2 linked regions of the Homo sapiens genome follow. The protein of the gene in region 2 purifies or fractionates together with the protein of the main gene of each other region. This does not show direct contact. Each region holds a gene or a part of one and is shown on either strand. Other genes may lie near its edges.

The links. Proteins that work in one complex are often made in the same cells at the same time.
Region 1: the proteins of ZNF644 (region 2) and EHMT1 purify together in Homo sapiens (affinity purification with mass spectrometry; 2 studies listed by BioGRID and IntAct, with this or other methods). This does not show direct contact.

Annotation. Positions count from the first base shown.
Region 1 is NC_000009.12:137,776,001-137,783,023, reverse strand, and holds part of EHMT1 (histone-lysine N-methyltransferase EHMT1), read right to left. Parts: intron 6,407-7,023; coding exon 6,180-6,406; intron 5,143-6,179; coding exon 4,969-5,142; intron 3,390-4,968; coding exon 3,307-3,389; intron 734-3,306; coding exon 627-733; intron 1-626. UniProt on the Homo sapiens protein: Histone methyltransferase that specifically mono- and dimethylates 'Lys-9' of histone H3 (H3K9me1 and H3K9me2, respectively) in euchromatin.
Region 2 is NC_000001.11:91,019,017-91,026,543, forward strand, and holds the start of ZNF644 (zinc finger protein 644), read right to left. Parts: upstream 3,020-7,527; 5' UTR 2,974-3,019; exon of another isoform or gene 2,673-2,973; intron 2,468-2,672; exon of another isoform or gene 967-2,467; intron 1-966.

The DNA.
Region 1 (7,023 bases), on a different chromosome or scaffold from region 2:
GAAGTCAGACTGCACCAGACTCAAACCTGGCACTTGAGAAACAGGGGATCCAACACCGGGATCAGGGAAGGGGCGTCACAGGGGGACAAACAGCGTCGTGTGTCTGAACCCAGAGACAAGCGGGCAGCGTTCAGATGGTTCAGAATAAATTAGCAGGTGGCAGAGTCAACTCAACCAACAGAAACACAAGCCAGTGATTAACGACAGACACAACATACCCTGTAGACGACGTGGTTCAGCTTGAAAATGCTCACACGATCTGATCTAAACAAAATGGGAGCCAGTCAACGGGGCTGGGGGAGGGGCGTCCGTGCCTCTGCGAGTGCTTGGCTCCCCCAGAGGGACGTCATGAGTGTGAAGAACCAAAACCAAAACCAAAGAAAGCAAATCAAGAAACAGCCAAATGGCGGCATGCTCTTCTCAAAGGCCGTGGTAAATGCCGGAAGAAACAGCGGGAAGCACTGATCCACCTGCAGGACTCGGGGGCAGAAAAGCTGACTCTGTGCCCGATTCACAGCACTACGGAACTCTTACACTGGAAGAACCGCGAACGTGGTATGATTTTACTTTGGTAAAAATAAAAGAGAGCAGGTGAAGAGCCCTAGGAGGGCGCCGTGCCGCCGCACCTGAACCAGCATGTGGCAGATGTCCACGTGTCCAGCCTCTGCCGCGGCGTGCAGTGGAGAGCGCTTATTCTGGTGCTCCATTTTGAAGTTGGGGTCAATTCCGTCCACTGTGAACAAACACAGTTTTATTAATGATTTCAGATGTAGCCACAGACTCCAGCTCAGGACTGTCACGATGGCTGGCAAGCACTCACAAATGACCATCCTCCACATAAACAGCCACCTCGAGCCACGCCGGAACCCGCCCACAGCACCATCCTCTGGACTTGAGACTTGAGTGTGCTAGTCTCCTGCGGAATTGAACAGGCAGGTCCCTCTGTCAGAACTAACTCGGCAAGGCACGCTCTTCCCTTTACCACCCTGCTCTAACTCTGAGGTTCCTTCTGTGTTTCTGTGTGGCCTGGCCATGGCCGCCCCAGGCCCAGTGAGGCGGCTGACCAGGGCAGACACACCCTAGGGGAGCAAGCAAGGCCGGGGACAGAGGCCTGAGCATCGGTCAATTCCCAGGAGGTCTGAGAGGACGGTGAGCAACGGAGCAGTGAGGTGACCTTCACAGGTGTCCTGTGAAGTCCATGACAAAATGATTAAAACTGCTGGTCAACATAAATAAACCTTTCTTTAAAAGCAAATAGTTTCACTTCTTTTTACTTGACGTACTGTCCAGTAAAGGGCTTCTTAATCATCCTTTTCAACCCAGAGACGATGAACGTCAGAGAAATCAAGCCTAAAGCTATGAGCTCAGAGACCAAATTATCACTGGGAAGGCTCTCTAACAAGTATGCTTTTGCGTATTAGAAATCTAATGCAATCGGTTTGCCTGTTATAAAATACCTATAGCTGAAGCCTACTTTGTCCACACCACAGCTGCTGCGATCAGCACAGGTGAAACATCGACTGCCGTCATCACCACACATTCCAGCGTCATGACCACACATCTCAGCATCATCACCGCATATCCCAGCGTCATCACCACACATCTCAGCATCATCACCACACATCCCAGCGTCATCACCACACATCCCAGCGTCATCACCACACGTCTCAGCGTCATCACCACACGTCTCAGCGTCATCACCACACATCTCAGTGATGCCGTCATCACCACACATCTCAGCGTCATCACCACACGTCCCAGCGTCGTCACCACACGTCCCAGCGTCGTCACCACACGTCCCAGCGTCGTCACCACACGTCTCAGCGTCGTCACCACACGTCCCAGCGTCATCACCACACGTCTCAGCGTCATCACCACACGTCTCAGTGATGCCGTCATCACCACACATCTCAGCGTCATCACCACACATCCCAGCGTCATCACCACACATCCCGGCGTCATCACCACACGTCTCGGCGTCATCACCACACGTCTCGGCGTCATCACCACACATCCCGGCGTCATCACCACACATCCCAGCGTCATCACCACACGTCTCAGCGTCATCACCACACATCTCAGTGATGCCGTCATCACCACACATCTCAGCGTCATCACCACACATCCCAGCGTCATCACCACACATCCCGGCGTCATCACCACACGTCTCGGCGTCATCACCACACGTCTCGGCGTCATCACCACACATCTCAGTGAGATGCCGTCATCACCACACATCTCAGCGTCATCACCACACATCCCAGCGTCATCACCACACATCCCAGTGTCATCACCACACATACCGGCGTCATCACCACACGTCTCGGCGTCATCACCACACGTCTCGGCGTCATCACCACACATCTCAGTGAGATGCCGTCATCACCACACATCTCAGCGTCATCACCACACATCCCAGCGTCATCACCACACATCCCAGCGTCATCACCACACATCTCAGTGATGCCATCACCACACATCTCAGCGTCATCACCACACATCCCAGCGTCATCACCACACGTCTCAGCGTCATCACCACACGTCTCAGCGTCATCACCACACATCTCAGTGATGCCGTCATCACCACACATCTCAGCGTCATCACCACACATCCCAGCGTCATCACCACACATCCCAGCGTCATCACACGTCTCAGCGTCATCACCACACGTCTCAGCGTCATCACCACACATCTCAGTGATGCCGTCATCACCACACATCTCAGCGTCATCACCACACATCCCAGCATCATCACCACACATCCCAGCGTCATCACCACACATCCCAGCGTCATCACATCTCAGCGTCATCACCACACATCTCAGCGTCATCACCACACATCTCAGTGATGCCGTCATCACCACACATCTCAGCGTCATCACCACACATCTCAGCGTCATCACCACACATCCCAGCGTCATCACATCTCAGCATCATCACCATACATCTCAGCGTCATCACCACACATCTCAGCGTCATCACCACACATCTCAGGGCCACAACTCACTAGTTTTGCTTTTCCTTAATCTCTATTTCTGCTTGATTTAATAATCACATACCAATTCCTTTTTAAAAATTAGAACTTCGTAGAGAATAGTTCTAATATCTTGCGTAACTGGATATGAACACCATAAAAAGCCTCAACACCAGTGGGCAACCTATTCTCACTCATCAGAGAACTCGGAGACACAGAAACAGAAAACCAAAACGAGACCAGCCTCCTGAGGAAGGAGTAACAACTGCTCTCGGCTTCTTTCAGTGCCACAGGGCCGGCTGCATGTGCCCGGGCCGCAGGAAGGCACTTACCCAGCATGAGGAGCACCTTCTGAAGCTCCCCTTGCCTGGCGGAGAAGTACAGCTGCTTTGGGTGGAAGCGAAGCTTCTTGGGTCTGTGGGAAGCACAAGACAACAGTCAGCATGGGGCTCTGCATCCCACACATGAAGCTGAAGGCTGGAAGGCCCGGCGGACATCTCCCCACCAGCCCCTCAAGCTCATGGGGCTCCGCGTCCCACACATGAAGCTGAAGGCTGGAAGGCCCGGCAGACGTCTGCCCACCAGCCCCACAAGCTCAAGTGCAAACCCACCAGTCGAGATATCTCATGGTAAAAACTGCGGACAAGAAACTGCGTTCCCAGTCACCGCAGGAGAACACTACGCACTGTGAGGCTTTTACACAACACGACGACAGAACCAGCGCAGGATGCAGGGGAACCTCATCTACGCTCAGCACAGCCGGGACCAGCCCCAGCCAGGATGAGCCCACACAGCGTGGTCACGAGTGAGGGCACAGCTCGCACTACAGAAGATGTCCTGGGCGGTGAGAGCTGGGAACACTGGCACTTTTGCTCTGAAACCTTAACTCGATGACTAAGCTGATAACTGATATGGTGTGGACCTCTGTCCCTCCCAAAACTCACGTTGAAATGTGACCTCCAGTGTTGGAGGTGAGACCTGGTAGAAGGTGACTGGATCCTGGAGGCAGATCCCTCATGAATGGCTTAGTGTCATCCCTCCCCCTGGTGATGAGTGAGTTCCCGCTCAGTCAGTTCCCACAAGATCTGGTCGCTTAAGAGTCTGGGAGCCTCCCCCTTCTCTGTCTCTTGCTACTGCTCCTGCTTTGCCTTCCACCATGACTGTAGCTTCCTGAGGCCTCCCAAGGAGCAGATGCCAGCACCATGCTTCCTGTACAGTCTGGAGAACCGTGAGCCAATTAAGCCTCTTTTCTATATAAATCATCCAGCCCTGGGCATTTCTTTATATTGACACAAAAGCAGACTAACACAATCACCAAGGGATGGGGGAGAGAGTGGGGTCAGGAACAGTCTGGGGTCTGGTCAGCGAGCAGAGCCTGTGGGTCAGGAACAGTCTGGGGTCTGGTCAGCGAGCAGGGCCTGTTGGCGTCAGCAGATGGTACCGTCGCTTCAAGAGCAGGCTCAGAGGCGAGGCTGGAGGCAGACAGAGGGGAGATCCAGGGAGGAGGCACCGCAAGCCTCACTGCCACAGTCTGGTCTGCCTCCCTGGTGGGGCAATGCTGAGAGGAGGACGAGGAGGGGTGGGTTTTTGTGAGCTGTCGGGAAAGCCTGGAGGGCCCCTTGGCCCAACCCTCGCATTGCACAGATGGGGTGTGGCCTGGGAGGGAAACGGAGTCAAGGCAGCAGAAGCAGTGTCTGCTCTCATGACCTAAGGGCAGCTCAGGGCCAACAGCAACCAGGAAATGTTTGTCAAAGCTCACCAAGACCTGCCTCCTCACTTAGGACTTCAAAGGTGTCAGAGGTTGCTCTTACTATAATGCAGAGGACAGTAATTTACAATAATTTCCCAAAATAGTGTGAAAATATACGAATTATTCTAACGAACAGCATTAATCAAAAAGCTGAGAAGTGCTAAAGTGACACCATGGGGAAAAACGCGGGGTGCAGATTAAAACAGGCTCTGAGACATCTCTGAAATCACATGTCAGGTCTTACTTTTCCGAGTCGAGGGCGATGAGAGCGCTCTCCAAGGTTTCCTTCCCTGGTCCCTGGGAAAGGCCGGGAGTTGGCCTCCCAAGCCCAGCAGGTCCCGTTGGATCAAAGCCCTCGGGCACGTGGGAGGCTGCACCCTGCAGCTTGTCGTCCTCCGAGAGTGGTGGCCCGGCAGCACTTCAGGGGAGGAAATCGGGGAAAGGTTTATGAAAACACGAAACATGGCCTGTTCCGACTCTGACTGCCCGAGAGCGCTGTTTTCTAAGTGAGAGCTGCGGATTTGCTTACTGTCCGCTTAGTCCCTGGATTTAACGGTTCAGGATTCAGAACCAAATTTCCTGAGAAAACTAGGGCAACTTTTCCTAGACTTCTGGGCAGCGTGTTCAAATACACTCTCATGAATGAGCTTCAAGCTGAATCTATCAAGTCCACTGCCCACCCCAACAAAAGGAAATCCCACTGGAATTTTGATTCAAAGTGCATTAAATTTACAGGTTAATAGGAAGGAATCACCTTAACATGTCCACAATTTGAGTCTCTTTTAAATAATCTTCAAGGAAGTTTATTTTCTTTATATTAGTGTCACATTTAAGTTCTTTGTTCTGCTGGGTAGTAACAAGTTTTGTTGCTGTTTTGAAAGGGTCTCTTTTGTTATTTTATTCTCAGGCAGGGAACTGCTGCTAAGGAAGAAGGCAAGTGGCTTCTATCTCTTCTTATCAGATCCTCTTACTGACTCTTTTGAGCTCTAAAAATTTTTCAGCTGTTTCTACTGGACTCTTTCAGGAAGACAATTGTATCTGTCTAATATGAACACTTCTAATTATTTTAGACTTTTTTGTCTTCAGCTAAGGCCTTCAAACCTTAATACCACAGAACTCGGTCACAGACTGCAGCAGCCACCACTCGTCTATCGCTTGTGTACCAACAGGACTGTGCCATCAACAGAAACACCACAGAGCTACATCAATGGGGGTGCTGTGAAAACCGGTTCAAAACAGGCAAATGGATCTACATAACCAAACCGAAAGAGAGCAACGTATGCACAAATGGCAATAAATGAATTTCAGAGTCTTAAATGTCAGAAATCACCATAAGCATCAGCATCAGCTCAGAGACTTCTGGAAAAAACAGCAGGAAGCAATAACGTTGAGTTAACAACTGAAACTTTTTCAGGTGGACGACTGGAGAGCCCAGCCAGAGCCTGTGCCAGGTACCTGCCCGTTGTGGTGTCGGCCCTGCCCTCCAGGGCCGAGCCCTTCTCCTGCCCGGGGACTGGTGTCACGGTCGAGGTGGTGTCTGCTTTAGCTATCGTCACCTCTTTGGCCTTGGAGCTCTCCTCCCCACAGTGGGGACAATAGCTGGCGTTATTGACTCGAGAGGCACAGTCTTTGTGGAAACGGTGAGAGATGCTGCTCTCGGGCTGACACTCCATAAAATTACCCTAAAAATGGGAGGACAAAAAAAAATTTTTGTTTTAATTGGGGTTAATATTTAGAAAAATAAAGTACTACTAAACTGGCACCGCATCCCACATCGGGCGGTCTGCAGAGTGAGCCATGGGTCGGGGTGGGGTCCAGTCTTGGCCCCAGGCATCGTTAAGAAGGAGGAACGATGCTTCCCGTGGTGCTCTCGCCCCACAGAGAAGAAGCTGAAGCCAGACAGAGGTCACTTGGCTGCCTCCAACCCACCTAGGCCCAGGAAAGCTGAGGCTGCCCGCAAAGAGAAGGCCTAAAGAAGGACCCAGAAGGCCCCTACTCTGAAGGGCGGATAGGGACAGGGACAGACGACAGCACCTCAGGGCACAGCATCAGGCAGGTGGAGCTGCCTCAGTGCCCAGCAGTGCGCAGCAGATGTGGTTTGGCGACCCAGGTGAGCCTCGAGGAGGGGCACACAGCCGTAAGAACAGCATTTTCTTGCAGAAAGCCAGAGATAAACAGATGTAGCAGAACCAAAAAAAGGATGTTTGAAGATGGGGAGGACATGCAAGGTGTGAAGTCCAAAGAAAGTCTCCCAAAAGTGGAAGCTCTTGGCCCATGTTCGTAAAGGGGCAGCAGGGCA
Region 2 (7,527 bases):
CTTATCAACTAACAAAAATCAGTAATTTAAAAGCACCTTATATGACCCATAAAAACTTTTAAAACCTTAAAACAATTTAACTTTTTGCTAAATCTGACATTCAAAGAAGTTAAAAATCACTATAGGGTTCCACCATAAATGACTGTCACTACTTGTTCAATTTCCTAACAGACCTTAGAGGTACCACTCAGTAGAAGTAGTAGTCTTAAAAAGTTGTTTTAAAGAAAGGGAACATTCTGAGTGGCACATTCGTTTATCCAACCAAAACACTATTACAAAATGAAAGACACCATTATTTTCAGCATTGATCTCATTTCTTTTCCTACATAATAACTGGCAATAACAGCAGTTATTTCAAACTTTCAAAGAAATTTATCAAGTCCCTGGTTGTTGTTTTTTAATTTTTCAATTTCTGGGTCAAGACTGCATTTGGAAAACCTTAAAATTCAAAAGCAACATTGCTCTGAAACTATCTGATATTTCTGTATTTTGTACCTGATTTTGTTTCACTGAAAGTCACTTTAAAAACCAAGTTAACCACAGAATATGAAAGTTTTTTTGTTTTTTTGTTTTGAGATGTAGTCTTGCTGTGTCACCAGACTGGAGTGCAGTGCCACGATCTCAGCTCTCTGCAACCTCTGCCTTCCGGGTTCAAGTGATTCTCCTGCCTCAGCCTCCCGAGTAGGTGGGACTATAGGCACCACCACGCCCAGGAAATTTTTACATTTTTAGTAGAGACGGGGTTTCACCATGTTAGCCAGGATGGTCTCGATCTCTTGACCTCGTGATCTGCTCGCCTCAGCCTCCCAAAGTGCTGGGATTACAGGCGTGAGCCACCGTGCCAGGCCAATATGAAAGTTTTTAACTTATTGTCACAGAAGTTCTCATGAACCTAACAATATTTAATTAACAAGTATTCTCAATAACATTCCCTTGTTTTTTTAACCATTAGTTGTAGATATTCACCTTCTCATCCCAGCAATATGACAAATACAAACAGCAATGGGTAGAGGCTGAAAGGCAATTTTCCATTATGCCACTAACTTAATCATCTCTGGTCCTCAATATATTGTAAAAGAGGAGGGTAAGAGCAGTTGTTCTTTGATATTGCTTCCACTGTAAAACTTTATGATCCAGGAATACATTTGCTAATGTTAATGCATCTCCTATTCATTAATACAAGACTGTTCTGTATTAGAAGCTAAAAAAAGAGAAAATATATATCTGAAAAGAACAAGGAAATGAAAGTTAACTAATGTTGAAAAATTCAAATTTCAGTTTGAACACAGAGATCTACACAGTGATCTAATGTGTTTAAATATCCCTCCAACCAAGGAATTCTGTTAATTGCCAACACAAAACATTAGGTGTTTCAAAATTTTGTACTTCATGAGTTAATACCAACACAAAGTATGATATAATTGCAGTATAACTTTAATTTGTTAGAAATTGTAAGACTTTTAAAAGCAATACATACCACTGCATTAATACTAATCAAGCTTTATGCTTCACCAATTAAAATGTCTAAGCTAGATTATAGCCTTATTATAAAAACGAGGTTTTTCTTAGCAAGCCTACCAAAATGCAATATTACTGCCATCAAGTTCCCTAGATACTTACACATGCAACTGAAGGCAAACAGCCAGGTTTCCTTTCTTTGAGAAACTTTAGTTGTCTATTTTTTGAAATGTTTTCCTTCTCATGGGACCAAAAAATGTTTACAACTAAAGCAAACTACTGCAGGGAGGGAATACACAATTAAAACAAATCTACCATCCAGATGCAACAAGCGTGGAATTAGGACTGGACAGGATAGTCGGCGGTGTTGTGATACTTCTGTTGAAATTATTAACAAGACAAGACCATCATTCGCCCCCAATTATGTTTATCCCCTCGTTGAGTTTGATGATCACACAAAATCTGAAGTCTAAATATAAACGTTTTTATATTCAAAGTCAATATTCAAGAAAACTTTTCCACTAATGTTGCTAAACCATAGATGGATCCCAACAAGAGTTGTCTGTAGAAGTCTCGTAACAAGTAACCTTTAGCTCCACCACCTAAGTTTCCAATCACTGAGAAGAGTCTGGGACAACTCATCTTCAGGTTCACGGGAGAAGTGGAGCACACCTGCTTTCCTCTGGCAGAGTAACTTCCCAGGGACACAAAGGCCAGAGAATCAGACCTGGAGAGGCAAAAAGCTTTAGCTGGACACCCACCAAGCCCCTGGCAACCCAAACACTTCGAGCGATTTACCTCTTGCTGTTACTTCCCAGGCACCTAGCCGCATAAGATCTTGCAGGACGGGGGGAGGGGAGGGCTATGCGGTCCTGTCCCAAGTAAGGGGAGGGGTGTAGACAGTTAATGCCAGAGCCAGCGTTTCTGGCCACAACCGAGCAGCCTCAACGAGAGGGGTTGGTGACTGCTCTCGGCCCGCCCCGTTACTCAGTGCATTGCAATGGCGACCGCCAGGCTCCCCAAGCCGCCTGATCTCGGCCCCTTCCCCCTACTGCTCACTGGCTGCTCGGCTTCATGTGACTAAACAAAACCCCCAAGTCTAGTGCCCAGCTCAGCCCCTTTGTGTCCGCTACCGGATCCTCCGACGCCGCAGCGGAAAGCCCCCCCCCCATCCCCCCGCCGAGTCCCGCCCCGCGGCGGCGGCCGCCGCTCACCTCAGGCTCCGTGGCCCCCAGCGACCGCCGCGGCCGCCGCCTCCCCGAACCCGGGGCCCGGGCTCCTTGTGTAGCACCAACTCCGCCTCCTCGGCCGCCGCCGCCATCTTAGCCTGTGCGGCAAAATGCGTCCTTTTGGATGGCTGGGACCCAGCCTAGGGCGTAGCTCCCCGGGCCCGAGAGCCGGAGGCCGGGTCCCCCAAGTTCTTCCGCCACCCTCAGTCCCGCCGCTGCCACAGCCCAGAGGCCCGAAACCCACTCGGGTCCCAGCGAATCTGACCAAATAACCCCTGAAACTCACAGTTTGGTGCCGTGTGCGTCAAACCGGGGCGACGTTGGGAGCACGCGGCGTCCCCGCGTCACACGCCGCTCTGTACGCTACTCGGCTCCAGCGGCCCCCCTCCGCTCCCCGCTTTTCGCCTCCAGCCCCGGTTCCCACGGCGCAGGCGCGCTGCTTTCCCGCCTCTGCCGGGCTGCGGGCCGCGGGGGTGGCCAGCGAGGAGCTCCCGGGAAGCTTCGCGCTGGTGGAGCGTCTGGGCCAATTAGACAAACGAGGGCAGCGGAAACAGTGCACCACTGTTCTCGGGTGCCAGAAACCAAACAAGGTCACCTCCCCCAGCGCTGACCTAATCACTCCCAAGGAGGTTCCCGCCCCAAAGTAGGCACGCTCCAAATATGGTGGTGCCCAAACTCTGCAAGACCCAAGCACTAGGCATGCCTAGGCCCTTTAAGGTGGAACAGGCCCAGGTTTGAGTTCCACGATCACGAGCGTGCAAAAATCTCTGTTATTTTCCTCTTGTTGAGGAAAACAGCAATATTTGCCAATCACAACTGTGGAGTAATGGCAGAGGGAAGGTTTTAGGATCTTAAGGGGGCAGATTGTTGGGAGTTGCTTGATGGCCAGGCAAAGCATCAAGTGTGACATCTCAGTTACCCGGACAGCCTGCCCTGAAAGGTGGCCGAGGTTTGCTCCAGTTTGACTCTCTGAGGATACTCTCTCCCTGCATTACTGAAAGTGTCGTGGTTCTACGAATTAAAGTTATATAAGAAGCATGTGAGATGCTGGTTAACCCTTCAGAGAATCAGTCCCTAGAGGGTTCTGGAAATTTTCATTTTTAACAAGACTTCACCACAGGATCCTGGGGCAGAGAAACACTGAGTGGGCTATTCTTTTGTTTTTCGACTGAGCCAACGAGAAACTGCTAACATGTTTAAGATTAACCAAGAGTTCTTGAGAAATCTACTGGTCCCGCCTTAATTATTTGGCTTCTCTGAACCTCTGTTTACTCATTTAAAAATTTAAAAATAAAAAAGTTTTCCTTAGTTGTACAGCTGTCATTACTGTGGCCCTCCAAACCCTCAAGATGTTATTGACATTCGGAAGAATATACCATAACTGCATTTATTTGACAAGAATGAGAAACATTCTCTTTCCTATGGAATGATGCCTTCAGCAACAGCAAACGTAGATTCCAAACAACAAATATTTGACTAAACACATTAATTGCTTCATTACTTAATAGCTAACACTTTTGAGTGCTTACTGTGTACCAGGCATTGTTCTAACTTGCTCGATTTCATTGTAACCCAATGAGACAAAGAGGAGTAAGGTGATTTTCTCGAAGTCATACAGTTCTTTGGGCTCTTTAAAATGCAAATCTCCTGTCTTCATTTACACAAATGTGTAAACAATAAAATATAAATACGTATATATTTGCAGTCAATGGGGGAGGGGTGCTCTTTGGATCATTTCGTTTGCAGAATCCATTAAAATTGGACATTCTCAGTTTACTATTGGACTTACTACAAAATATTATGTACTATGGAAATTCTTACATTATATCACTGTAAAAGCAGTTACTAAGAAAATAACTGTCATTAATGTATACCACTGACTAATGTGCAGACAAATCACACAAGCAAATAGAATCATTCAGAACTCAGCCATGATCAGGAACTTGTCTCACTAATGAAGCTGTTTTTTACACTAGAACTCAGCAACTGAATTGTAATACTGTGGAAGTCATAATAGCAGTAAAAGTAATCATAGTAATTATAATAGTAGAAGTAGTAATAGTTGATGAAACGCTGTACAAAATGGATCTCAAAAGCTTCTATGAATGGCAGAAAATATAATGACAGAAAGCTTGAATAAGGTAATGCGAAAAGAAAAAAAAATACACGTGAGTTCTCTGTCTAGCCGCAGACGTGGGTCTCTGTTCTGCAGGATGGGGTTTGTAAAAGTTATTAAGAATAAGGCCTACTTTAAGAGATATCAAGTGAAATTTAGAAGACGACGAGAGGGTAAAACTGATTACTATGCTCAGAAACACTTGGTGATACAGGATAAAAATGAATACAACATACCCAAATACAGGATGATAGTTCGTGGAACAAACAGAGTATCATTTGTCAGATTGCTTATGCCCGTACAGAGGGGGATATGATAGTCTGCACAGCATATGTACACGAACTGCCAAAATATGGTGTGAAGGTTGACCTGACAAATTATGCTGCAGCGTATTGTACTGGCCTGCTGCTGGACCGCAGGCTTCTCAATAGGTTTGACATGGACAAGATCTATGAAGGCCAAGTGGAGGCAACTGGCGATGACTACAATGTGGTAAGCATTGATGGTCAGCCAGGTGCCTTTACCTGCAATTAGGATGCAGGCCTTGCCAGAACTACTACTGGCAGTAAAGTTTTTGGCACTCTGAAGGGAGCTGTGCATGGGGGCTTGTCTGTCCCTCACAGTACTAAATGATTCCCTGGTTATGATTCTGAAAGCAAGAAATTTAATGCAGAAGTACACAGGAAGCACATCATGGGCCACAATGTTGCAGATTACATGTGCTACTTAATGGAAGAAGATGAAGATGGTTACAAGAAACAGTTCTCTCAATACATGAAGAACAGTGTAACTCCAGACATGATGGAAGAGATGTGTAAGAAAGCTCATGCTGCTATACGAGAGAGTCCAGTCTGTGAAAAGAAGCCCAAGAAAGAAGTTAAAAAGAAGAAGTGGAACCGACCCAAAATGTCCCTTGCTCAGAAGAAAGATTGGGTAGCTCAAAAGAAGGCAAGCTTCCTCAGAGCTCAGGAGCGGGCTGCTGAGAGCTAAACCAAACAATTTTCTATGAGGATTTTTCAGATAAAGACAATAAACTTATGGACAGAAAAAAACATACAGGCAACTGAAAAAATCCAAAGACAAGTTATGTGGCTCAGTGCCAAAATATTTAAGGAAATCACAGTTGAGAATGAAAGTCAAGATGTGGAAAACAGTTTGGGAGAAAATTCATAACACATTGTGAATAAAATGATGCTCCAATGAATACACCTGGTAAATGTTTTAAAGAAATAAAAAGCAAGATGCTGGTTTTTGTTGCTGTTGTTGTTTTTAAACTTTTATTTTAGGTTCAGGAGTACATATGCAGGTTTGTTATATAGGTAAACTCATGTCACTGGGGTTTTGTACAGATTATCTCATGACTCAGGTACTTAGCCTAGTACCCAGTAGTTATTTTTTTCTGATCCTCTCCCTCCTCCCACCATCCACCCTCAGGTGGGCCCTAGTGTGTGTTGTTCCCTCCCTTGTGTCCCTGTGTTCTCATCATTTTGCTCCCACTTATAAGTGAGAACATGCAGCCTTTGGTTTTCTATTCCTGAATTAGTTTGCTAAGAATAATGGCCTCCAGCTCCATCCAAGTTCCTGCAAAGGACATGATCTCATTCTTTTTATGGCTGCATAGTATTCCAAGGTATATATATACCACATTTTCTTTATCCAGTCTACCACTAATGGGCATTTAGGTTAATTCCAAGTCTTGGCTATTGTGAGGGATACTTCAGTGAGCATACACATGCATGTGTCTTTATGGTAGAATGATTTATATTCCTTTGGGTATATACCTAGCAATAGGATTGCTGGGTTGAATGGTAGTTCTGTTTTCAACTCTTTGAGAAATTGCCACACTGCTTTTCACAACAGTTGAACCAATTTACACTCCCACCAACAGCATATTAGTGTTCTCTTTTCTCTGCAACCTCACCAGCATGTTATTTTTTGACTTTTTAATAATGTGGCTACTGTTAATATGTTAAAATCTGACCATATTAACACAGTGTATGAATCCATTAGTGATTACCAGATTATCAGTGAATGGAATTACCTGATAAAAAACATAAAGTGGCCAGGCACGGTGGCTCATGCCTGTAATCCCAGCACTTTGGGAGGCCAAGGCAGGCAGATCACGAGGTCAGGAGATCGAGACCACCCTGGCTAACACAGTGAAACCCTGTCTCTACTAAAAATACAAGAAATTAGCCGGGCGTGGTGGCGGACGCCTGTAGTCCCAGCTACTCAGGAGGCTGAGGCAGGAGAATGGCGTGAACCCGGGGGGCGGAGATTGCAGTGAGCCGAGATCCCGCCACTGTACTCCAGCCTGGGTGACAGAGCAAGACTGCGTCTCAAAAATAAATAAATAAATAAAGTAAGTTGTGGTCTCAAATGACTTGCTCAAAAAGAAAATGCAGTTCAGTGTTGGATAAAAACAAATAATTCTCCTCATTCCAATGCTTTATAATTCCAAGCAAAAAGAAAGAAATGAAACATTAATCTACTAGTAATAAAGTCAAATCAAGTTTGGATTTTGCTCAGTATCCCACTAGTTCTGGATCAACCTCTTAATACCAAAACTGTAAAGCAAGTCACTCTTGTGGAACTGCAAATAGTTCAGTATGTTTGTTCATTGGAGTGGGGGTAGGGAGGATGTGTGGAGTAGAAAGAGAGATGATGTAAACAGAAACCAAGTTTTGTATTTATTTTTGTTCCACGCTGACCTGAGCACAGAGC